Linked DNA regions of Homo sapiens. The protein of the gene in region 5 purifies or fractionates together with the protein of the main gene of each other region. This does not show direct contact. Each region holds a gene or a part of one and is shown on either strand. Other genes may lie near its edges.

Region 1 (3,500 bases), about 80 Mb from region 5:
TCCAGCTACATGGGAGGCTGAGGCAGGAGAACAGCTTGAGCCCAGGAGTTCAGTTTGCAGTGAGTTGTGATCACACCACTGCACTCCATCCCGGGTAACATAGCAAGACCCTCTCTCTTACCAAAAAAAAAAAAGTTTTCATAAAGCACTATGTAAATATTAAATACAATAGAAACAATGATTTTTAATTCAAGATAAATAAAAAGTTATAATTTTCCTTTTTAAAGGCACCGTATAAACTTGAGTTCAGACTTCCTGATTACTCCTGATTTCTACTGGGACAGAGAAAACCTGGAAGGACTTTACGATAAAACGTGTCAATTCCTTAGCATTGGCCGAAGAGTTAAGGTACGTATTTTGCACTTCTAATGAGAGAAAAAGACACGTTGTCGCCTATAAGTTGAATATGTTTAACTGCTTGCAGAGAAATATCTTGTTTGACTTCCATTCAAATCTCTTTATATTTCCCCTTCTTGTCCTCTGTACAGTCACTTCAATTTTTTGTGTCAAAGGATCTTCTGATATTAGCTCTACAGACTAGATAAGGTTGGTGAATAAGATGAGAGTTTGGAAGCCTAATGGTCCATCAGTAAGTTCTTGTCAAGTTTCAAGCAAGAGTTCATGACTGCTTCTGATCTGTCATGGTGACAGTGAGAATAGAAATAAATTTAAGAAAGAATCATGTAAGACAAATCAAGTGATGGGTAATAAGAGGCCATGGAGAAGAAAGAATAAAGGATGACTGATGTTTGCCTGGAGGTGACAAGTAGAAAGGTGGAAAAACAATAATGAGAGGTCAGAGAGGGGAGGTGACAGACTAAATCTAAGATATGCTGAGATTAGAGTAGCAACAAGATATCCAATTAGCTCCGTCATGCAGGCATTTAGAAGGGCAGAAGCAAAGTCGGGAAAAGAGACGTGTATTAAGAAATCCCAGCACTTTGGGAGGCTGAGGCGGATGGATCACCTGAGGTTGGGAGTTTGAGACCAGCCTGGCCAACATGGCGAAACCCTGTCTCTACTAAAAATACAAAAATTAGCCAGGCATGGTGGCATTCTCCTATAGTCCGAGCTACTCGAGAGGCTGAGGCAGGAGAATCACTTGAACCCAGGAGGTGGAGGTTGCAGTGAGCCAAGGTCGAGCCAGTGCACTCCAGCCTGGATGACAGAGTGAGACTCCGTCTCAAAAAAAAAAAAAAAAAAAAAGCTGTAGTGATGGAGGTAGACCACATGGGGAAAGAGCATAGAAAACAGAAAATTGACATTAGTACAATGTGTGCACATAGTTCTGTGACATTTTGCCACATCTATAGATCCATGCAACCACATGATCAAGACACAAAACTGTGCCAGGTGCGGTGGCTCATGCCTGTAACCCCAGCACTTTGTGAGGCTAGAGGTGGGCAGATCACTTGAGGTCAAGAGTTCGAGACCTGCCTGGCCAATATGGTAAAACGCTGTCTCTACTAAAAATACAAAAATTAGCTGGGTGTGGTGGCGCGTGCCTGTAGTCCCAGCTACTCGGGAGGCTGAGGCAGCAGAATCGCTTGAACCCAGGAAGTGGAGGTTGCAGTGAGCTGAGGTCATGCCATTGCACTCCAGCCTGGGCGTTGCAGCGAGACTCCATCTCAAAAAAAACAAAACAAAAAGACACAAAACTGTTTTATCACTTTTCCTCATGCTACCCTGTATAGTCACACTGCCCTCCCCCTACCCGGACTGTCCCTAACCCCTGGCAGTGAGTAATCTCTTCTCCATCTCCATAATTTTGTCATTTTGAGGATGTTATATAGATAGTCATACAGTATGTGACTTTTTTTTTTTTTTTTTTTTTGAGACGGAGTCTTGCTCTGTTGCCCAGGCTGGAGTGCAGTGGCTCAATCTTGGCTCATTGCAAGCTCTGCCTCCCGGGTTCACGCCATTCTCCTGCCTCAGCCTCCTGAGTAGGTGGGACTACAGGCACCCGCCACCAAGCCCAGCTAATTTTTTTTTGTATTTTTAGTAGAGATGGGGTTTCACTGTGTTTAGCCAGGATGGTCTCGATCTGTATGTGACTTTTTAACTGGCTTTTTTCACAGAGCATAATGCCCTCAACTTGGATCCATCCAAATTGTTGCTTGTATCAAAGTTCCTGTCTTCCTGTGGTTACTGAAACAATTTTTTGGTATTTCATTTTGATGTTACTTTTTAATATATCTCGTTGCATAGATATTTAGTAGTTGCTCTGGTTATTACATCTTACGTATATAACTTATTACAATCTACTGATTTCAACATCTTGCAGATTAAATGAAGTATAGAATCTTTATTTCCCTAATGGATGATTGGATGCAGAAAAAAAAAAAGAATTCTTATTTCTTTTATATTCCTTTACCCTTCCGTATTTATAATTTTCTTAACTATTCTTCTGCAGACATAGAAAACTTCATCAGATAATGTTATAATTTTTGCTTCAACCATCAAACATAATTTAGAAAACTAAGAAAAGCAAAGTCTGTTGTATGTGCCCATGTTTTTATTCTTTCTGTTCTTTTCTCCTTCTGATCTTCTAAGATTTCTTTTACTGTTTTTTTTTTTCAAGAACTTTATTTAGCCATTCTTTTAAGGTAAGTCTAGTGAGACAAATTCTCTTAGTTTGTCTTCATCTGAGAGTGTATTAATTTTCTCTTCATTCTTGCAGGATATTTTCCTAGAAATAGGATTCTAGGTAGACAGTTTTCTTTCTTTCAGCACCTGAAAAATGCCATGCCACTTCCTTCTGACCTCCATGGTTTCTGACGGAAATCTGCCATAATTCTATGACATCTACATTTTATCTTTTATTATCATTTCACAAGGTCTTTGAGGCTCTGTTCACTTCTTTTCCAGTATATTTTGTCTCTGTTAAGATTGGGTAATGTCCTTTGTTTCATCTTCTAGTTGATTGATTCCTTCCTCTGTTACATTCGTTCTGCTGCCCAACATTGAGTTTATTTCATTTATTATATTTTTCAGTTCTAAAATTTCCATGTTTTTTTATTTGTATCTTCTGTTTCTTTGCAGAGACTTCCTGCTTTTTCGTTTGTTTCAAATGTGTTCAGAATTGCTTGTTGAATCATTTTTATGATGGTTGCTCTAACATCATCTAATAATACCTAACCTCAGATACCTCTTGATATTAGTGTCTACTGATTGTCTTTTCTGATTCCCTCCAACTAATTTTAATACCTCCAGTTTCCCTCATTGCCTCAAGTGTTCTGGCTTGATATACAAGGTCCTTCCTATTGTTTCTGTTTTTCAATCATATTTCCTACCAATCCCCACATTCACCTTGTATCACATCAAAAATAAGTGATTAGCCTGGGAAACACAATGAGACCTCATTTCTACTAACCTTTTTTTTAAAAAAATTAGCCAGGTATAATGGCATGTGCCTGTAGTCTCAGCTACCCTGGGAGGTTGAGGCAGGAGGATTGCTTTAGCCCAGGAGTTTGAGGCTGCAGTGAGCCATGATCACGCCA
Region 2 (4,122 bases), on a different chromosome or scaffold from region 5:
GATGGCCATGCAAGGAGATCCCAACCCTGGGGCAGGTGGTGTCTCTGGGGCCGTGGGTGGGTGGAACAGAAATGACACCCTAATTAGGGACCAGGAGCTGGGGCACACCCTGGCCAGGAGGGGGACCAGTGTTCTCATGAACTGACCTCAGAAGTAATGTCTACTCAGCTGCTCCCCTGCGTAGGAAAAGTGTTTTGTAGATCTGAGAACCGCTATAGGTAGCTCAGGGTACCCCAGTGAAGGAGTGTAACCGCGAGGACCTCTGGGCTCCCTGCCAGCCCACAGCTGCTGATGCTGGGACTGCAACTTGGAGAAAGGGGCGAGCAGGTGAACAAAACTTCCTACTCCTGGCAAATTTCTGAGCTGCTGGGACTAGAAAATTTCATAGTCTGAGGCTGAGTCATGGAGTGGCTCCAAAGCGGCTAGAGGCTAGGCTGTGGGCGGCTCTGGGGCATGGAGGAGGCAACATTGACCCTTCTCGCGCTGCAGAGAGACAAAAGGACCACCACCACGATTTTATTCTTAAATAAAGCTCAGTCTAAGGCCAGGTTAGGTGTACAGGTAGGTGAAAGGGGAGGAAGTGCAGATCCCGGGCACTTCCACTGTGGGTGAGTGGGCCAGCCCAGGGGAGGTGGGGCAGCTGAGAAAGGCAAGCAGGTACACAGGGCAGGAGGGGACGATGGAACCACTGGAGTCATTCTGCATGTGCTGGGAAGGTGCAGAAAGAACCTGGACCCCACGTTCTCTGTGGGTGGTGCCAAAAAGCTCAGCATGGTCCCGAGCCCCAAGAGTCCCCTGCCCGGACTCCCCCTGTCCAGCTCAGTGCAGCATCAAGCAGGCAGTGATGGCTGCCTGCTGCCATTAAGTCTCCCAACAAGATCTCAGGTTGAGGGGCGGCAAGGAGAGCCACATGCCTGCCACCCACGCTTTCCACACAGCCATGCTCAGGCCTCCGGGCACTGCAGGCCTGCAGGGGCCTCCCCGCCTGGGATCTGAGGTGCTCTCCAGGTGCGAGCTGGGCTCCTGAGCATTGCAGGTGCCGGCCCCCCGGGGCTTCAGGATACCGGGCTGCTGACTGGAGGAAAACGGGAGGAGGGCAGAGGTCTTCATGCTTCCTTCCCACGGCCAGGCTCAGTGCTGGTGCTCAGGCTCCGACTTCCCCAGGAATTCCCTAGACCACAGGACAATCAGGAGCCAATCATTTGAGCTCAGACCAAAGATCCTTCTCCACAGTCCTCACACTGCTATCTAAGGAAGCAGAGGCTGTGCAGAGAGGAGGCAGCCAAGAGCCCCATGAGGATGCGCTGTAGCCCAGAGCAGCACTCAGTGAGTTAGGCAGGGAACAAGCAGTGTGGTGCCAAGTCAAAGCCCAACACACAGGCATGGAGACAAGGTCTCTGATTCTTGACCCTCAACTTCAGAGCTATTCTCTGGTCTAAATTTTCTACACATATCTTCCTTTTATAATGGGGAAAATTATAACCGCAAAGCAAACCCATACTCTGAGCCCACTGCCCCCTTAGCAACCCAGGTACCTGTGCTAAAGGGACACAGTTTTGCCTCTGGAACTTCCAAAGGCAACTGGAGAAAAGCAGAAGTTTGCAGTAGAATTACTCACGGGATATACAGCACTGGGAGGCAATTCAGGCCACCAATTTCAGTCCCCTGCAGGGAGAAACTGGCACCTTGACCTACTTTTTGGAGCTGACTGGCACAACACAACAAAAAACTCTATCACCATTAGCAGCAGCCCCTCCGTGGGTCCAGTGCTTAGGGTCGAAGTACCACATGCCCTCCTCGGCTCAGAAGCCTTGTCCCATGCACAGGGAGGGTTAGCATCTTGCCCAAGGCCACACAGCCAGGCAGTGGGGTGGGGGCCTGTGTCCTCTGACAGGCAGGTAGGCGAGTCTGGGCAGCAACCTGCATAGGGCCCAGGGCAGTACAGAGGAGGCCGGGGGTTGGTCCATTCCACACACTGCCCTTGTCACTACTGCCAAGGCCTCACCCTCAGGCTTGGGCTCTGCACTCAGGCCCAGGTGGGTACTCATGGCTCTCTGGGCTGGCGCCCATGTCCTGCCAGTGCAGGGCAGTCAGGAGCACCACGTCCCTTCAAGAAGCAGCTGGGGACAAAGAGGCTTTTGAGGAGCTGTGTACGTCTTGAGAGGTGTGTGGAAGAGATCCGAGGCCTGCAAGTGGCTGGGGTGTCTGTGTCTGAGTGTTCCCAAACATGGCCACCTGTGAGCGTGTGTGCCCCCCCGTGTGGGTCTGTACATCCTTTACAACATGGAGGCGGCTCACCCTGCATGATCATGTGAACAGTCCTGGAGCAGGAGAGAGGCACTCCCTCAAACCCCTCTGCCAAGGAAATGGAAGGCTCCCAAATCACTGTGACTCTTGGCCCCACTGAGGCCCCCTGAGCAGCTTCAGCAGCTGCCACCTGCTGCACGTTAGGTGTGAGCCAGTGCTGCCCAGACGAAGCCCCTGGGTGGGAAGAGAATGTCTCACCTCAGTATCCGTGGCAGCTCAGGGCTCTTGTAAATGTATTTGTGCCTGTAGCCAAGGTCTGAATGAAAGGGCACAAACTGAACTTTGAAATCTCGGAAGCTTCGAGCTGGTGCGGCGATGCTATAGAGCTGGGGAGAGAGGGGTCAGAGCCTGAGGCAGTGGCCTGGCATGGGGGTCCCAGCCTGAGGAACACCAGCTTGGCAGCCTCCCCTTCAATAGAAACCAGTCCAGAGTCCCACATACACTGCTTGTTGCCACAGCCGGTCACGACCAGGAGGCCCGGGGGTGGGCTGGGAGGAGCCAGGCCCCAGGCTTGGCTCCTGGGCACACACCACTCAAGATACTGTCCTCACACCTTATAGACTACCCTTCCTCTGGGGAGTGGCTAGGTGGATGAGCCAGACCAGGTGCCTGGGAGGCTCTGATGGCAGGGATGGCACAGTCTTGGGGAGCTGGGACAAAAGGTATGTGCCTCAGGCTTAGCTAAGATGGGCTTGATGTACCCATCTCAGCCCCCTCCCCCTCTCATTTCGGCAAGGGTAGGTGGGCCTGAGCTGTGCGCTGCTGGGCGGCTCTGCATTCTGCCCCTGCCCTGTGTGGCTCCGTCATCTGTGTGCCTTATGGAGCCTGACTGCATGGGGGCTGTCAGAGCAGGAAGTGCTCCCAGCCCTGGGCTGAATCCGTGGACGAGGCCTGCACACACCCAACTAGTTTGCCCTGCCATTACCAAGACCCAGGCTGCCTTCTCTTACCCTACTCTGAGCCACAAATCCAATCCAACTTGCTGACAGTCAAAGCAAATTCAGCAAAAGCAAACACTGAGGCCCCACAGACAGCATGGTCTGGTTCTGGTATCAGCGCAATTCCAAAGGCAAGGAAACAGGCTAGAAGTTTCTCTATCAATTTTGACTGTGACCCCTGCAATGGGCTTGGGAGATCCTCATCAAGGGGTTCTTTGCCTTCAGCCCATAACTGATGAGCCCTTCCAGCTGAGTTCCCAGGTTGGCCTGGGCTCTGATAACATAGGCAGCCCACTCTGATAACCCCTGTGTGAGGACTGGGAACTATCTGCTTATTTTTCATATTCTTGGAGACAGCATCAGTGGGCCCCTGCCCCAACCTTTACACCAGACCTCCCATGTCCTTCCGAAGCAGCCTGGAGGTGACGCAGGGAGGATGAGGTGGCCTCCTGAGCCTGACGTGGCTGGTGCGCAGCCCGTGATGCAGCATGCAGGGGCTGCCTTCCCGCCTGCCCACTCCCAGCCTGGTCCACCCACACTGGCTGAGTGTGCAAGATGCCAGCTACACCAGAGGCAGAGGCCAGGACCCACCTTTCTGCCAAGCTGGAAGGGCACCACCGGGTCGTCCTCAGCGTGCAGGATGAGCAGGGGACAGGAGATGTGCTTCACGCTGTAGGAGGGAGAAGGGGCTAGACCAAGACCAGGGAAAGGGCAGAGTTGCCCAGACCCTCTGTCCATGGCAGGGATCTGGGTTCAGGGTGTGTTTTGGGAAACAGCCTGATTTCTGCTGGATTTCTTTTTACTAGACAACTGAAAGTTAACTCTTCATTATCTCTATGAACATCTATTACAGCTAGATGACAGGTGTCAATCACAG
Region 3 (3,500 bases), on a different chromosome or scaffold from region 5:
ACTTGCCTGAAGGTTGCCATTTATTTATGCAGGGCTGTATCACCCCGTTTCCTTTTCTGCCCAGGGTACCCTCATCTCCCCACTCTCTCCTTCCCTTTCTGGGGTGGTCTCAGTGTTCTAGAGACAGGTCAGTCACTGGGTGGAGTGACAAAGTGTTGGAGTTAGGCCCATGTGGATTTGAATTCCAGCATCACTGCTTAATGTCTTTGAGTGAGTTTTCTCATCTGAAAGACAAGAAAAGAATCCTTATCTCATAGGATTGTTCTGATGATTAAATGACATAATGCATGTGACTTGCCTATCCTGGTGCTTGGCACATATGTGGACAGTGATGAATGTTAGTTTCTTATATCCCTGGTGTCTAGCCTCGGATCTGACGTCATAGTAGGTGCTGAATAAATATGATTTCCTTGTCTCACCAGCGCCTGACACAGGGCTTGGCATACAATAGACTCTCAATAAGTAGTTGAATGCCAAATGTGTCTTCTCTTCTCTACTACTCCCTATACCCCTTCTCTGTCTTGACACTGGCTCTGACAAGGGATGGCAGCTGCTAAGAGATGAGGAGGAGTTGTGGGAAGGAAGAATGGCTCTCTGCCCTCCCCCTCCACCCCATCAGAGCTGGCACAGTGCCCCACAGATGCCTGTCTGTAATACTGCCTAACATGGTTTTGGGCCTTGCCCCCCAGGAAGGGAGATGGAGGAGAAGAGTGTGGGAGAGAGGCGTTGAGGTTTGTCCCACTGCCACTTCTGAGTCTCTCCTTCTGCAAAGAGAGGACCCATGGAGCCAGCTGGGTGTCAGTCATCTTACCTCACCCCCGCCTTCACTCTGGCTTGGGGGTTCAGCCCCAGGGGACCCAGGCAGCCTCCATTCCCAGCACTGTGCTCCCCTGGGGAAGACGGCTTGGCTGTGATCATGGAAAATTGTCCTGCCAAGAAAGTTGTAGCTGGGAAAGAGGCTGAGGGGGAGGCAGGAGAGAAGACTGGGTGGGGGTGGAAGGGAAGGAGAAATCATGGACATGGGGAGAAGGAAGGATGGGGAAGGGGATTCAGGATGTCGGGAAGAGAATGGGGTAGCATTGGAGGCAGAAGGAGAAACTTGTCCCTACCTCCATGCCAGCCAGAGTGACTGATGGAATCCTGGGCTGGCACAGCTTCTGGGAGGTGGGGTCTTTGCTGGGTCCCTGATGAGGGGGCAGTGGGTCCGTATCTAGCCTCTTGCCTGGCCTCTGAAGCTGGTCCCTGAGCCACACTCTGATGCCAGTCTGGGGCCCTGTTACTTTTGCTCCCAGCATTCTTGGCATTTCTGGCTGGGTTTCAACTGGACTGGGTTGGGGAGCAGGGCAGAGCTTGGGGATGGGGCCAAGGAGGGGATAGGGAAGGCCTACTCAGGAACAGGTGCTGGGAACAGGCAGTTCTTTCAAACCAGCACTGTTGGCCTGGCTGCTTGGGTTGGCGTGTATGTGTGTGTGTGTGTGTGTGTGTGTATCTACTGTGTATGTTGATCCCTTATCCAGATAGTATGTACATGCAACGTGATGACTGCATGACCAAGCATATTAATTTGTCCTTGCCAGGGTTTGAGAAAACTGACATTTGCCCCTTCTCTTTAGTCCTTGAACACTCTCTTTAGTACTGAGGGGTTGGGCCTGGGCAGCTCTAATGAGATTGGGTCATTCTGACCTCTAACTCCTGTCCCTGTCCCTGCCCCTGCCCCATCTTGCAGGCTGCTGGTGGGTGCTCCCCAGGCCCTGGCTCTTCCTGGGCAGCAGGCGAATCGCACTGGAGGCCTCTTCGCTTGCCCGTTGAGCCTGGAGGAGACTGACTGCTACAGAGTGGACATCGACCAGGGAGGTGTGGCCCTGCATGAACAGAGTGGGGGAAGCGTGTGAGCGGGGAGGAGAGGACTTGGGCTCCTCTTCCCTCCCCTAATTCCCAGTGTCCTGCCTCTAGCTGATATGCAAAAGGAAAGCAAGGAGAACCAGTGGTTGGGAGTCAGTGTTCGGAGCCAGGGGCCTGGGGGCAAGATTGTTGTGAGTATTGCTTCTCATGACTGAATGCACGGATGGGGTGTGTGTGTGTGTGTGTTTATGGTGTGTGCATACGCATAGGTGTGCTTAGAGAACACAAGTTAGGAATATGGTATGATTCCAAGTACATCAGGGAGATATAAAAAGGTGTGAGACATGGTCCTTGTCCTTATAAATGTAAAAATGTCTGTCCATTCATTCATCCATCCATTTGTCAAACTCTTACTGAGAACCTTTTAAGCATCAGGCATTGTGCTAGTTACTACAGGGGAAGGCTCATGCCTGTAATCCCAGCACTTTCGGAGGCCGAGGCAGGTGGATCACCTGAGGTCAGGAGTTCGAGACCAGCCGGACCAACATGGCGAAACCCTGTCTCTCCTAAAAATACAAAAAAATTAGCCGGGCGTGGCCGGGTGCGGTGGCTCACGCTTGTAATCCCAGCACTTTGGGAGGCCGAGGTGGGTGGATCACGAGGTAAGGAGATCGAGACCATGGTGAAACCCCGTCTCTACTAAAAACACAAAAAATTAGCCGGGCGTGGTGGCGGGCGCCTGTAGTCCCAGCTACTCAGAGAGGCTGAGGCAGGAGAATGGCGTGAACCGGAGAGGCGGAGCTTGCAGTGAGCTGAGATCGCGCCACTGCGCTCCAGCCTGGGTGACAGAGCGAGACTCCGTCTCAAAAAAAAAAAAAAATTAGCTAGGTGTGGTGGCAGGCGCCTGTAATCCCAGGTACTCGGGAGGCTGAGGTAGGAGAATCACTTGAACCTGGGTGGAGGAGGTTGCAGTGAGCTGAGATCGCACCATTGTACCCTAGCCTGGGAGACAAGAGCAAAGTTCCGTCTCAAAACCAACCAAACAAACAAACGAAAAAACCAGAGCTCTCTGTTTCTCTCTCTCTCTCTATCTTTCAGTAACACGCATAGATACACAATTACCAATACAGATCACTGTGGGGCAGAATCTGGTTCATGTTAAGTGAGTGGTCTAGTCTCCAGTCTATAAAAGTCCAAAGGAGGAGTAGAGAGAAGACTTCTGCAGAGGGGATGATTTGAGCCAGGCTTTAATAATAGGTAATACCTAGCCTGTGCAACATAGTGGGACCTCATCTTTATAAAAAATAAAAACAAATTAGCCAGTCATGGTGGTGCATGCCTGTAGTCCCAGCTACACAGGAGGCTGAGGTGGGAGGATCACTTGAGCCCTGGAGGTCGAGGCTGCAGTGAGCCATGATTGTGCCACTGCACTCCAGCCTGGGTGACAGAGTGAGACCTTGCTTCAAAAAAAAAAAAAAAGTAATACTTGGAGAGTGAAGCGGACAGGAAGTTCTTTGCAGATGAGATGGTGACACTTACAAAGGTCCAGGGACAGGGCCAAGCTTGGCATTTTGGAGGACTGTGACATGATCAGGGAGACACACATCCTATGTGGTGGCTTAATTGTGTCTTTTGGCTCCAGGCAGAATGTGGAACAA
Region 4 (3,500 bases), on a different chromosome or scaffold from region 5:
TGGGGCTGTCTGGTGATTCTGTAGATCAATTCTGTAGGCCCACTGTCCTGGTCAGTGGCAGACAGCTGCAGGGTGGTGATTTTCTTCACTGAGTTTTCATCCAAGACCAGTCCTTTATTGGTGGTGATGACTGGTGGGGATTTGTCTTCTGAAAATATCAGAAATAGTGATTTGAAATGGGATCTTCTCAGCCTCCTTTCTTTAATTCTAGGCCTGGTGCCAAGAAGTAAGGTCAGAGTCATCTCTAGGCCTGTGTGTTAGAGAGCACACCAAGGAGCCAGGGCTTCGTGCAATAAAGGGGGTATGATTTTCAGTTTCCACACCAGCTAGGTAAAGGGAAGGACTCGAGCCTCGAGGTGAACAAAGTGTAAACTATATAACCTCAGAACTGCTAAAATAGTTTTATATTAGAAAATCAAATGTCTCTTTACCTAGAATGCTGATGGAAAATGACTTGTCAATCAATCTGTTGCCTTCTCCATCAACCACATCAAATTTAAAAGCAAAGCTCCCTCCAGGTTCTCCTGTTCCATGACTATATTCTACGTGGCCTATAAAAAGGAAAAAAAATCAAGATTTGCTATTAGTGCTTTCTGCCCTTATTTCTGAAGCAAGAGGTGTGAATTCAATTGGTGTTCACACCAATGAATCAGTTCACACCTTCCTCGCTTTGACACTGCTTTTGACATTTTAATCTAAAGTTTTCATTTCCTCCTTTTCCTCTCCCACCATCTACTTTCTCATAACCAAAGACCTTCTCATAACAAAATCACCCCAAGTGACATTTCTCATGGTTAAGGCTGAGCCTTTTTGGAAGATCAGCTCAGCCTCTAAGGACACCTCATGAAAACGAGATCCACAAAACTGCCCATGTGTAAATGTGCACTGACCACACCCACATCACCTGGAGTGACCCTATTATATATTGGAATCACAAGGGCAAGAAGACACAGAGCTGCACCTCACATTCTCCCAGAACTCTTCACTTTTCATTGCCCAGTTCACGGAGCAACATGGGCTATAGCCAACCAACAAATAAACTCCACATAGAACTCAAAAGGATCTAAAAGGAGAAGTACAACAAAAATGTATTACATTTTTGTTAACCTACAGCATCACTTAAAAGCATCTTTCAATTTGGTTGTGTAAATATAACCAAATCTCTGGGAAGAGGGGGCTGGTCTTATCTTTTAAAAGTAGACACCGACATATGAAATAATTAAGGAATTACTTTCCTTTTGCCTCTTCCACTCCCCTTCACTAAAGCACAGCCAGTTCCAATGAGAATTCAGCTGTTGTCAATTTTAGGTGTTAGTGTGTGGGCGGGACACTTGTTTTTTATCCGCAGGGGTATATTTCCACTTCTAAACAGAATTGCACATAATCACAAGACTGTGGATTACGTTTTCCCCAATATATAACTTTTTTTCCCTTTTGTATCCCTGAAAGCACTGTACAGTAACTACGTAGCATTTAACATTTATGCCTTTACATTACATCAGCATTTCCTGATGGAGGGATGTGCCATGTAATTTCCCCTAGGCAGCTCCGATTTATGCCCTTCCATTTTGCTTAGTTCATTAACTTGTGCTCTTTGGGGAGCTGAAAAGAGATATAAATTGCTCACCTAAGGAAGGCATAATTTTCACCTTAATCCATCCCAACTCACTTCTTTTTTCCTTCTCTCTCTCTCATATATACTTTTTAGCATCACAGCAAGTCAAAATAACTTTTTCTCTCCAAAATAGCTGCAAATGCCACCAATGCTAAGTCAAAGCATGAACACATTTCAACCAAGAAAGATAGGGCTTTTTTAAAAACAAAAAGAAAAAAAAAATAAGAAAACAAGGAAGAGAACAAATGAAGCTCCTCAAAACAAAGAGTGCACAGTTTATTGCCATAGACTACCAGATATTTAATTCTCATTTTACTAGTGTAGGTGCAGTCCACGGAAGCCTGGTAGGCAGAAGAGAACTGGCTGACCTTGGCTAATGTCTGCCTGGGTGAAACTTCGGATGGGGCCTTTAATAGAAATTTGCTCCAGGTTGCCATGCTTCATCATCTGCAGGCGCCCTGCACCAGGATCTTCCTTCATGATGTACATAACCTGATGGTCATCTGAGTCAATATCTGTCACTTTCAAGTGCTGTTCTGTGATGCGTGCTACAGACCCTTGGAAGAGAACGGAAGAGAGTAGGTTATTCCCCAACATTTCCTTTGAACGGGATGTCAAATGATTTTAGGAGACTGGAGGCTAAATTATCACATATTCATTGGATCTAGGTACCAGGCACTTGCCCTTCTCAGTTTCCAGCTGAATAAATTATAATTTCCCTAGTGAAAGAGTACCGACATTTCAATTTACTAATTTTCCCTTGAGTCAACACCTAAGCACTTTTTTCCTTCTGATCCATTTTCATTCTCTCCTATGCTCCTCCGACTCAGTGACCTACCAGTTAATACCTAGATCTGTGGAATAACTCCCAGTTCTGTGACAAAAATAACTCCTAGATCTATGATGAAACCTGCTTGGATTTAGTTTACTTACTGTCTTGAGAATCACCAAATCAGAAAAATATAGCTTTACATAAACTCAAACATATCTTGTTGCCATGTCAGACAAAGTAGTGAAAATCAGCATCCTTCAGGACAGAGGATGTTAGGAGCAAGGAGATCTGAGCCTCTGGGCCCTGGACACTGCGCAGGTGTTGGGGATGAAGATAAGGCCCTGGCTAATGGCAAACTCCTCTTCTCAGGGTCTTGTCACTTGCTTTATTACCCAGCCGCTTTATCATGTTAAAAATAGTAAATCCCGGTAAAGTAGAGCCTAGTTATTCATGCATAATACATCCTGGTGTTTGGAGTGACATGTTCTTAGTGGGTAATACCAAGAACACAAGACCCTGACCATGCTTTACCCAGGCCGTTTCTCAGAGAGCAACCTTGAGGGATGAGGTAATGTCTTCCTCTCAGACAAAAATAAGACTTGCATTCTGCTGCTGTAACATGGAGAATTCCCCAAGCTCAGTATTCCCCTCTGTGATGCATCCTACTGCACACGAAAGTGTCTGTCTGGGCCCTCTACATCACCCCTATGGGACTGGGATGGCAGAGGGAGCCGATGCAAACCTGCTGATGCCCATGCTGCCTGCTGTGCTATAAGTAACAAGAGTGCCGTATTTCTGATGGAGGAATCTTGTATCTTCTACCAGCATCCATGAAACAGTAACAGGATAGTTTATTAGCTTATAAGTAGGATAAAGTCAAATCTCAGACTTGATATTTAAGACCTTTGAGAACTACCAAGTTTTCCAATACTATTATACCATACATTTTTCACTGCAAAATACACATGAAACTAAGAACAAACAAACAACAGAACTCTAGTAAGATGCAGACACCCTGGGCAAAAGGTCCACTTCTTAATTAAGTAACTTCCTACTGCAAACTGTTCAAGACTCACACTTGTCACAGGTCCTCCAATGTTGCTTAAACATGAG
Region 5 (3,500 bases):
CTATCTCTGCCACATAACAGCTACATGACATTTTCAAGTTACTTCCTAGTGCTTCTGTTAAAAACGGGGATACTGATTATATAGATCAGAGGTAAACAACTATATTACCGTCAGGTTGCATTTGTTTAAGTCCTCTGTACTCACCAAGGGACTGCGTCCATAACTAAATATTAGCATTAGTATTAAAACAGCAAACAAACAGAGACAGTACTATTACCTACCTCAGGGTGTTATGAAGATTAAATAATACACGTAAAACCCTAAGGGTACTTCTTTGCCTATAGTAAATGCTCAATTTATGTCAACTATATTTTGCTTGTATCCATGATATAGGGTATTAACATTTATTTAAAATTGTATGCAAAAATTACCAGGCATGAACAACAAATTATCTTAGTTTTATTTCTGTGCTTTGGAGATGTATTCTAAACCTACCTATGCATCTATCTATGTACTGGTATAACAATTTTATTTGTATTTTGGTGGGAGAATTTGAGCTCCATGCAAAACTTAAATTTCATGCTTCACAAGCACTGTGAATCAAATATATATGTGTTAACTTACACAGGCTGAATATTCCAGAGTCCAAAACATTTAAATAGACATATCTGTACAATATTGAATTCTGTGCAAAAAACAATGACGACAACAAAAAACCTACCACTACTTGAATACCACCTGAAATAGTTAATAAATAAGACCATTGACTTTGGATTTTCTATTTTGCTTTTGCAGCATGCCTTAAAAGCAATTACTATTCCATTACTGTTCACACAAGAGAAAATTTACCAGCTTGTAATTTAGAGGCAAGCAGAGTAGACAGAAAAAAGGGAGCCACCCACAATGGTTTCCAAGAAGCAGCAACAGCCTAAATGTTTAAAAGATACAACATTCATTGCACCAAGCAATAATCCGAACATGTTTTCATGTCTATTCACGAGACAGAATCATCAGTGAAAAGTAGGTTGAGAGAGGAAGAATGATGGAAAAAGACAATAGGAAGAGGCAGAAGGGAGAACATCTTTAGGCCCAAATTGTTATTTCTGGTCCATTAAAATATCAACATCCAAATGAAAACTACTGGTCTCCAAAGAAAACTCTTATCAAAAACGAACCATAATTCAAATACTGTACACCCAGGGAGAATAAAGAAAACCTAACATTTATAGCCTAAGAAAATTGGCTGTAGTTTCATATATACATTTCTATAAAATTCTCACATTTTATCAGACCTATGGCATGACTCTTAATAGCTTTCAGAGGGAAAGAAATAAAATACAAGGGGCACATTTCAGGTAAAATGGTCTTTTAATGTTCCACCCAAGAAAATCTTCTAGGTTCCTTCACTTTAAAAAGAATTACCCTAAATAAAGTAAATGTACCAAGGGTAAAAGGTAAATCTCATGTTTCCTTTCAGGAAACATAAATAGAAGTACTATTTAGGGGGGAAAGGGCCAAACATTGTAAACTCGTATATCCTTCAGATTATGACTCCAATAAGCAGCAGGTAAAGAGGGAAAGCACACAAATACTTCTGAAAAAAAAGCAAGACAGAATTAATCCTCAAAACTCCTTTATCTGCCTAGTACACAAATAGCTGAATAGCACCCAACAAAAGATTCAAGCAAGGGGCTTCTTTAGTTCATTGCTTTCCAGAAACATCTTCTAGATGCAATCTCAGTCACTGACTCCTTTGATAACCCCTTAAGTGTCTGAGAGCCAGCCTGTCTTCCAGTCTTATTTCATTAACTTCAAAATTTCTAAAGTTTTTTTTTTTCTTGCTTGGAAAGTGCTATTTTTTTTTAGTATTTCAATTCAATTGATTTCCAGAGGTGAAACCAACTTCACCTGAAAAGCATCTGTTTTAAATTTAAGAAAGCTTTGAAGGTTTTCTGGTGAAAAACAGAAATCTGATCAATAGTGTTATTGAAAACATGACTAAAAATAAAGTCACATTTATCTGTAGTTGTGGCTTTTATTAAAGCAGCTTAAATCCTTTGCAAGTAAGCTTTTCCAGAGAGGGAGATGGATAGGATGCACAGGGAGGCAGGATTACCTGTGATCCACAGTGCAAAACCCCATCAATGCCACAGGAAGAAGAGGAGTAGCTGTTGAGATTTTTGAAACCTGAAAAACCCCACCACCTCCTTCTCCAATGAACAGGCCCATTTCTGTAGCTAAGATTCACACTAAACTTCATTTGCAAATGGATTTGGCTGTTAACATAAGAGTATTCAATGCAAATATTTCTTTCCTGGCAATGCAGATCAGTTGAAAGGAAAGGCTGAAAATTAGTTAGCTGTATGAGATGACAAAGCACCATTCCAGTTACCAGGGAGGAATAATTGAACACAGATTGCCTGTTGCGTCTTTAATTTAATTTGGAGACCTTTCATCCTTTGCTTTCCTTCATTTGCAGCCAATACTTACGGAGCTAATTTGTACGTGGTTCATTTTCCTCCTTTTATCTTATCCACTTTAACATCAACCATGGAAATTAGAAGCACCATGAATAAAAGATGAAACCTGACTTGGGGTATTCTTTCCTTAAGTACTGTGAATTACTGAAAAACTAATTGGTGTGCATGCACAATATAAAGGGCTGAGATATATGCCTCAGCCCTATAGCATTCCTAATCAGCATCTTTGCTTTCCCCCAAGGAGCTGTAGATTTTCAATGTTTTATCTGGTCCTACGTTTTCTCCAGAGAACAATGTCTAAACTATAATTTACACGGAATCATTAATCTGAGAACGGGTGTATGGTAGGCTGTCTCACAAATAAACCTACGGATTTCCAAATTCTGGAAAATGCACAAGACTAAGAATTCATAAATTCCACTAGCCTAATGATGGAATTCAATAATGTTTGCCATGCATGGAAAATGTTATAATAAAGAAAACTGAATGTATCAGCATACATATATGTCAAACAAAGGCCTAATCTGTCCAAAAACAATGCTGGTGGGGGAGTGGTAGAGAAAGGTACTAGTCATAAAATTACTGTCTGGGAGTGACCTCCAGGAGATAGAAAACTTAAATTCTAAGTATGTCATGCCTATTATGCTTAAAATGACAACAGAAACAATAAACCTGTTGTATTTTTTGTATATGTGGCACCTCACCATTAAAAAATGTTGCATATGCTCTTATTTTATTTTATTGCATTACTTCCAATTGTACAAAAGTTTAGTGTCTTGAAAGTTTTGCGTTTTTCCTTTATAATGTCCTCTCTGACAACACTATTTTTTTCTCCTTACCCTCTCCTCATTTTATATTTTCCCCCATATGGACTAATGAAAAACCTACTGGAATTTTCTCCTGATGCTTAATATCCCCCACCAACAAACCCTCCTTTCAGTTTGGGAAGCATCAAAGGAAGGCTGTGTCCTGAATCATTTCACTGCCTGCGTGTGCCAATTCTTCTAACACCTCACACCAAGAGGCTAGAAGCTCGGAATAAACTAAATCATTCCTCCTTCACAATCTAGCCTCCTACAG
Region 6 (3,500 bases), on a different chromosome or scaffold from region 5:
TTCTGTATCAACTGACTCAGGGAGCTCCAAGAGGGGGCAAATTTCCCCAAGTTAGGACTCCACGTTGTTGGCTGATGCAATGGAGAATAAATTAATGAGCTGAGGAGACAAAGACCTACTATAAACGCTCAGGAGAATGACCTGACCTCGTCACATCCAAATAGTGGGCAGAATGGTGACATTTTCGCGTGCCCAGGGCTCAGGATGAGAGCTGCTATAGCCTTGCGGCACCTAGCAGAATTTGCCTTAAAACTAAAACTGGTTGTTAGAATGATCCATGGAGGTCTGCTTTCTCTCCCAGAACCCCATGACCTTGGGCCTCTACTTCTCCCAGACCATTAACACCCTCTGCTGGAAAGGCCCAAGACCTTGGGAGCCAAGTGCCCCAGCCCACACTCCTGCTGGCTCACATGCCAGCACAGCGGTAACACACGGCTGGGAATGAAGCGCTTTCTTTTTTAAGTGGCTAATTGCATCCTTTCATAAATAAAGATGAGAAAAACCCTGGGCAGACTCTCATTCCAGCTGCTTGGTGTGCTGTGCCTCATTAACTCGAGCCCTTGCTGTACTCGGAGAGGTGGTTGTGTGCTTTACCTCAATGGACTGGGATATGTGCATTTTATTAATTTCAATCTGCGGAAAGCTACTGCCGGACACATCTTCATACTCCTCATCATAGCGATCAAAAAGGTCGGTGGCATCTACTCCAACGCTGATCGTTCCCTGGGGCAGAAAAACAAGCCGTCAGCAGAACGGGTGGTATTTGTGGAATGAAAGACAATGCTACACTTCAACAGCCAGCTCGCTTTAATTGAACAAGTCATTTGACTTCAGGGTTCACTGGGTTTAGGTAGGACACTCCACCAGGAAGCCCACAAAGCATGAATGTCACAGTCCGAACCAAACTGCAGAGCACCACAGACGTCCAGAGCTAGAAAACATCATTTGACCAGGAGAGCCGGTCCGCATGTCTGCAGAGCAATGACACGCCAAAGACAAAAGTGTTAGTCAAAGGAGTAAGAGCTAGACAGTTTGATTTTCAGAGACCAAACAGGACCCAAGAATGCACAAAACCACCTAGAAATGAGCTACATGGATTAAACATTTTTTGGTAAACAACCTTATACCACAAAACTACCCTAAAACTCTTTAAATAAAAATACCTTCAAAGATAAAGCAGCACAAATTATGAACAAATGGGAGACTTTAAAATTAATCCACCTTCTCAAATTAATGAGAATTAAGTTTGAGAAACAGAACACTGTATTTGCTCAAGGAATTCTAAGCTAAAATTTTGCTGATAAAAATGCTTGTTACTCAGAAAATCAATGTTTATTATTCTTTGATAGTCACAACTTTAAAAACGGACATTATCTTAATCCAGTATATAAAACCATGGCCACACACATTTTTTTAACTAAACTTTTTGCAGCCCATTGAAACAATGTTTTTTTGCTAGCTTTTCTTTTTTTTTTTTTTTTGAGATGGAGTCTCGCTCTGTCACCAGGCAACATTAGCCATTAGTCCAGTGCAGTGCAGTGGCACGATCTTGGCTCACTGCAACCTCCGCCTCCTGGGTTCAAGCGATTCTCCTGCCTTAGTCTCCCGAGTAGCTGGGACTACAGGCGCACGCCACCATGCCCAGTTAATTTTTGTATTTTTAGTAGAGACAGGGTTTCACCATGTTGACCAGGATGGTCTCGATCTCTTGACCTCATGATCCACTCGCCTCGGCCTCCCAAAGTGCTGAGATTACAGGTGTGAGCCACCGCGCCCAGCTGGTGCTAGCTTTCTATCAGATGCTTCAATCTGAAAATGCATTAACCCTAATAATTACTTGATTTCTGTTGAGGGTGAAACACCTGACATTATGAATGCTACTATAAACTCAATCAAAAAGTTCCACATTAAAGGTAAACGTGTTTGTTTTTGCGGTGATATTCAAATACCAACTTGGAGGCAGTATAGTGTTATGGTAAAAAATTTTCTTATTAAATCAAGAAACCCATGGACTAGAAACATCCTTAGAATTAGTTGTAGTGATACGCATAATGCATAATTGTGTCAAAACAAGCTGTGGTATTCTACCCATGGAAAATGAAGTTGTAGTTGCCAAAATTTACAAATTTTTTATATTCACAGAGTAACAGCATGAACACATCTCTGTCATGATGATGATTCTGAATAATCAACAAAACTGCATGGCAGTATATGAACAATCTGTGGCCAGGTGTGGTGGCTAATACCCGTAATCCCAACACTTTGGGAGGCTGAGGGAGTGGGATCACCTGAGGTCAGGAGTTCGAGACCAGCCTGGCCAACGTGGTAGAAACCCTGTTGCTACTAAAAATACAAAAATTAGCCAGGTACACGTCCCAGCTACTCTAGAGGCTGAGGCAGGAGAACTGCTTGAACCTGAAAGGTGGAGGTTTCAGTGAGCCAAGATTGCGCCACTGCACTCCAGCATGGGTGACAGAGCAAGACTCTGTCTCAAAAACAAGAACAGGCCGGGTGTGGTGGCTCATGCCTGTAATCCCAGCACTTTGGGAGGCCGAGGCAGGCGGCTCACGAAGTCAGGAGTTTGAGACCAACATGACCAACATGGTGAAACCCCATCTCTACTAAAAATACAAAAATTAGCCGGGCGTGGTGGTGCGCACCTATAATCCCAGCTCCTCAGGAGGCTGAGGCAGGAGAATTGCTTCAACTTGTGAGGCAGAGGTTGCAGTGAGCCAAGATTGTGCCACTGCACTCCAGCCTGGGCAACAGAACAAGACTCCGTCTAAAAAAAAAAAAAAAAAAAAAATTACAATCACTGAAAATAAAGCTTGTAATGAAAAATAATCTGAAGCTGATCTTTTTAGGGGGAAAAAAACCATACAAAATAAATAAGAGTTTATGAGATATAATGAGATACAATTTTGAAATTCCATAACGGCATTTTGGAGTATCTTTATTTTGTGTAGGAATCTTGGTGGAGCTGTCATGTTTAATTAGGTAAATTTATATTCTGTTCAAGAATGAAATGGAATTGAAAAGGTCTACAGTTTTATAGCATCTAAATTTGATAAAACATTCAAAAGATCATAAATAAAGATGATTTAGAAAAATGTGTCAAAGAAAACTGTTGTGAATAAAGTTAAAAAGACAATACCTGTCAAAATACTTGGGCCAAGATATTTTTATGTTCTAATATGAAGAAATTTAGAATTGAGAGAATATTTTCTAAATTAAAAATATGATATACAGAGATGAATCAATTAAATGTGTCAAAAATTTCAGCTGAGTGCTGTGGCTCACTCCTGCAATCCCAGTACTTTGGGAGGCTGAGGTGGAGGGATTGCTTGAGCCCAGGAGTTCGAGACCAGCCTAGGCAACATGTTGAGACTCTGTCTCCACAAAAAAAACTAAAACCAAAAAAAAAAAAAAAAAGTTTAGCTGGGAGTGGTGGTATCCGCCTGTGGTCCCAGTCACCTAGGAGACTGGGAGGATTCCACTGG
Region 7 (3,500 bases), on a different chromosome or scaffold from region 5:
ATTAAAATTCACATAACTTGCAAGCACAGAAAAATTTGATGTCAATCTCTAATAAATGCAACTTCAAGTTTTACTGCCAATTCAGGGGAGAAATTTTAAAACTCTAATGCACCAAAAATTTATTCTACTAACAGCAGAATGACTTTACTTTTAAAATTTATCAGTAATCAAGTGGAAAAGCTGTGACCACAATGCTACAGATCTTAATTAGTGGTCAATTTTCTAAAGGTGCTTAAGATTATGGCAAGTCATCATGCCTACCATATAAATGAATGTAACCATTATACTACCATTATAGCACTGAGTCCCATAACACTTTTAAAAATCATAATTCAAACTAATAATAGATACATCTTATCAAGTATTATCCTAAGTACGTTTTGTCCGTAGATTTTGTCACTTAATACAACAGTCCTGCAAGTATGGCATCACCCCTATTTTATGTTTTTGAGACAGAGTCTCACTCTGTCACCCAGGCTGGAGTGCAGTGGCATGATCTCGGCTCACTGCAACTTCTGCCTCCCAGGTTCAAGTGATTCTCGTGCCTCAGTTTCCCGAGTAGCTGGGATTACAGGTATGCGCCACCATGACCAGCTAATTTTTGTATTTTTAGTAGAGACGGGGTTTTGTCATGTTGGCCAGGCTGTTCTCAAACTCGTGACCTCAGGTGATCCATGTGCCTCAGCCTCCCAAAGTGCTGGGATTTACAGGCCTGAGTCACCGCACCCAGCCACCCCCCATTTTCAAGATGAGGAAATTTAGAACATCACCCAATGCAAACCAAAATTTATTTATTTCATTTATTCACTTAATAAATTTAACTGAACACCATTAGAATCCAACTCTGACTCCAACACCCCATGTTTTCGCATATTACAAAAAAGTTTACATGAGTTATCTGAAACAAGCCCAAAACAATCTGGAAGAAGAAAAGATTATTCTTCAGATTTATAGGTTGGGAGCTTCCTCTCTGGCTATCCTGGTATTCTTTTCAGTAACTATTCTAGGAAGAAGAAAATAAAGAATAACTCATTGTTGGCCTTTTCCGCCTCAGTCAGGCCCTAAAATTTTGTTTAAAGTAAATCACGAATTTTTTTTTAAAGTAAATCAACAGCCATTTTACGTGAAGCACACATTTCCTTACTCAGCTAATTGCAGAAAATGTCATTCATCATTTTCAAATGGAAGAAAGTAGAGGAAGACTATGGCTTGCAGATTTAAAACACTCTGGCAAAGTATCTGTATTAAAAAGCATCTAATAAAATACTGAATGGGCCTTTCCCTTCACTTAAAAACTTAAGGGTTTTGGCTGGGCGCGGTGGCTCACGCCTGTAATCCCAGCACTTTGGGAGGACGAAGCGGGCGGATCACGAGGTCAAGAGTTCGAGCGGCCTGGCCAACATGGTGAAACCCCGTCACTACTAAAAATACAAAAATTAGCTGGGCGTCGTGGCACGCACCTGTAGTCCTAGCTGCTCGGGAGGCTGAAGCAGGAGAATCGCTTGAACCTGGGAGGCAGGGGTTGCAGTGAGCCGAGACTGCACCACTGCACTCCAGCCTGGGTGACAGAGCAAGACACCGTTTAAAAAAAAAAAAAAAAACTTGAGGGTTTTTGTTGAACTCTGCCTGTCAAACAATGAGGGAGGTGGGTCACAGCATGAAGATTCAGAAATTCTAGAAGTTCTCCCTTTTAGTCCCTAGCTTTAATATTCCAATTCTTTTGCTAACCTTGAGTGATATATCAGTCCAATAAATTCGGTTGTCTGTCACATCAAAATCCAAAGCAGAAGCTTCTTTGACACCAGTGAGTGGAATAGCCACATTATTATTGTTTGTTTCCAGAGAAATTCGTCTGATATCTGCTCTCCGTGAAAACAAAAGGAAAGCCTCTGGGACAATGCAGGTCTTCATGTCACTGATGAGTTCAAAGCCAATAGGGCAAGCACAGCGAAGGCCCTGAGGTCTATAGAGGCAGAGATGGCTACATCCCCCGTTTTCCTCAGCACAGGGGTTGGAACCTAAAAGATTAATTATAAAAGGGGCACAGAAGGACACACACATTGATACATTCAACATATTTTCACTTTTAAATTACTTAAGCGTTTGGTTCACAAATGCCTATGATTATGTCTTGCTCCCAATCTCAAGTTTCAATTCTAATATCACAAACAAGTAATATGCAGATTAATAGGGAGTAAAAGCATGGTGAAGTATTTTCCTTTAATACCACAGTAAGCTTTAAAGTAAGGTATATTATTCATACTATCAGACTGAATTCTTTTGATGAAGGTGTGCCTGTGCATGTGTATTCAGCCCTTCAATTCAAACTGGGTAGCTAGAGTAGTAAGTCAACGTTTAAAAGGTCCCTTCTCAGTAAAAAAAAAAAAAAAAAAAAAAAAAAAAAAAAAAAAGGCGGGGGGGCAGTAAAGAAGGTTTCAAAATTGCCTCAAAACATCAATAATTTACACTGCTGACTATCTCCATCTTTTTTCATTCCTGGTTCCCATTTCTAAGAAAGCTTTGGAGTTACTCACCAATCACTCGATGAACATTTGTAGCCTTTAGGCCCATGAGGTCAGGCAGCTGATCTATGATCACTTCCCTCTCTGCACTTCGTTTATGAACTCTTTCAATGCTACGCCTCTGCCAGTCAGTCCAGTAAACATAGTCACCCAACAAAGTAAATCCAAATATGTGAGGAATTTTGTCTTCCACTAGTACTCGTCTCCCAGTGCCATCAGTATTCATAACCTTCAGGTTTAAATTCAAAAGAGAAGGGGATGAATTATGCATTTATTCTTCAGCTAAAAATAACAAATCCAACTGCCTGTTGTATAAAAATCCAAGAGTCATCTTGGTATTCCTATTACAATGCTTTCTCAAAATTACATGATGATTTTATAAAAATGATTTCAAATTTTCCATATAAGCCTCTATTTGACCACTTTTCCCCCCAATCTCATATTACTCTTCCTTCTAAAAATTCTGGCAACTTTAGATTATGCAACTCTTCTATTAAACAATTGTGGCAAAATTAAAAATACAGTATCATCACCTTAAGTTTGCACATTTGTTTTCAAATTATAATGTACCTTCATATACATTATTTTATCATATATTTTGTTTTATAACATCTTTTATTTTATCTTGAGAGCTTTGCCTATGGAAACTGAGATTCATGTAAGGTCACAGAGCTTGTAAACACAGTTGATGTCTTTTTCAGGACTTTTTCCACTTAGCATGCTTTTTATTTTGTTGTTGTTGTCAGTAACAACAAAAAACAGATAAAAGGGATCTCAATAAATCTCTCATTCCTCTGAGATTATAATCACAAAAGTATCGGGATTATATGACACCCTCTCTGCATCTAAGTTTCAAGAAACTAGGATGTACCTTCTCTTTCCAACTACCTAATAGTAACATTATTAAATTCACTCTGGCATTCATACTGTATTCACAGTGCATTCACCATGCACTATTCAGTGTTGACTTACTTGGGA

The links.
Region 1: the proteins of B3GAT2 (region 5) and RMND1 purify together in Homo sapiens (affinity purification with mass spectrometry; one large-scale study listed by BioGRID and IntAct). This does not show direct contact.
Region 2: the proteins of B3GAT2 (region 5) and ABHD12 purify together in Homo sapiens (affinity purification with mass spectrometry; one large-scale study listed by BioGRID and IntAct). This does not show direct contact.
Region 3: the proteins of B3GAT2 (region 5) and ITGA7 purify together in Homo sapiens (affinity purification with mass spectrometry; one large-scale study listed by BioGRID and IntAct). This does not show direct contact.
Region 4: the proteins of B3GAT2 (region 5) and FRAS1 purify together in Homo sapiens (affinity purification with mass spectrometry; one large-scale study listed by BioGRID and IntAct). This does not show direct contact.
Region 6: the proteins of B3GAT2 (region 5) and DNAJC11 purify together in Homo sapiens (affinity purification with mass spectrometry; one large-scale study listed by BioGRID and IntAct). This does not show direct contact.
Region 7: the proteins of B3GAT2 (region 5) and LRP6 purify together in Homo sapiens (affinity purification with mass spectrometry; one large-scale study listed by BioGRID and IntAct). This does not show direct contact.

The regions. Positions count from the first base shown.
Region 1 is NC_000006.12:151,414,127-151,417,626, reverse strand, and holds part of RMND1 (required for meiotic nuclear division protein 1 homolog), read left to right. Parts: intron 1-227; coding exon 228-348; intron 349-355; exon of another isoform or gene 356-546; intron 547-2,078; exon of another isoform or gene 2,079-2,209; intron 2,210-3,500. UniProt on the Homo sapiens protein: Required for mitochondrial translation, possibly by coordinating the assembly or maintenance of the mitochondrial ribosome.
Region 2 is NC_000020.11:25,299,714-25,303,835, forward strand, and holds the end of ABHD12 (lysophosphatidylserine lipase ABHD12), read right to left. Parts: intron 3,916-4,122; coding exon 3,837-3,915; coding exon of another isoform or gene 3,585-3,836; exon of another isoform or gene 2,634-3,584; coding exon 2,506-2,633; intron 1,666-2,505; coding exon of another isoform or gene 1,644-1,665; exon of another isoform or gene 1,619-1,643; intron 1,172-1,618; coding exon 1,132-1,171; 3' UTR 501-1,131; downstream 1-500.
Region 3 is NC_000012.12:55,701,405-55,704,904, reverse strand, and holds part of ITGA7 (integrin alpha-7 isoform 2 precursor), read left to right. Parts: intron 1-1,726; coding exon 1,727-1,854; intron 1,855-1,953; coding exon 1,954-2,033; intron 2,034-3,484; exon of another isoform or gene 3,485-3,488; coding exon of another isoform or gene 3,489-3,500. UniProt on the Homo sapiens protein: Integrin alpha-7/beta-1 is the primary laminin receptor on skeletal myoblasts and adult myofibers.
Region 4 is NC_000004.12:78,448,823-78,452,322, reverse strand, and holds part of FRAS1 (extracellular matrix organizing protein FRAS1 isoform 1 precursor), read right to left. Parts: intron 2,173-3,500; coding exon 1,984-2,172; intron 552-1,983; coding exon 432-551; intron 149-431; coding exon 1-148. UniProt on the Homo sapiens protein: Involved in extracellular matrix organization. Required for the regulation of epidermal-basement membrane adhesion responsible for proper organogenesis during embryonic development. Involved in brain organization and function.
Region 5 is NC_000006.12:70,950,561-70,954,060, forward strand, and holds part of B3GAT2 (galactosylgalactosylxylosylprotein 3-beta-glucuronosyltransferase 2 precursor), read right to left. Parts: intron 1-3,500. UniProt on the Homo sapiens protein: Involved in the biosynthesis of L2/HNK-1 carbohydrate epitope on both glycolipids and glycoproteins.
Region 6 is NC_000001.11:6,653,317-6,656,816, forward strand, and holds part of DNAJC11 (dnaJ homolog subfamily C member 11), read right to left. Parts: intron 724-3,500; coding exon 595-723; intron 1-594.
Region 7 is NC_000012.12:12,162,545-12,166,044, forward strand, and holds part of LRP6 (low-density lipoprotein receptor-related protein 6 isoform b precursor), read right to left. Parts: intron 2,752-3,500; coding exon 2,535-2,751; intron 2,019-2,534; coding exon 1,729-2,018; intron 1-1,728. UniProt on the Homo sapiens protein: Component of the Wnt-Fzd-LRP5-LRP6 complex that triggers beta-catenin signaling through inducing aggregation of receptor-ligand complexes into ribosome-sized signalosomes.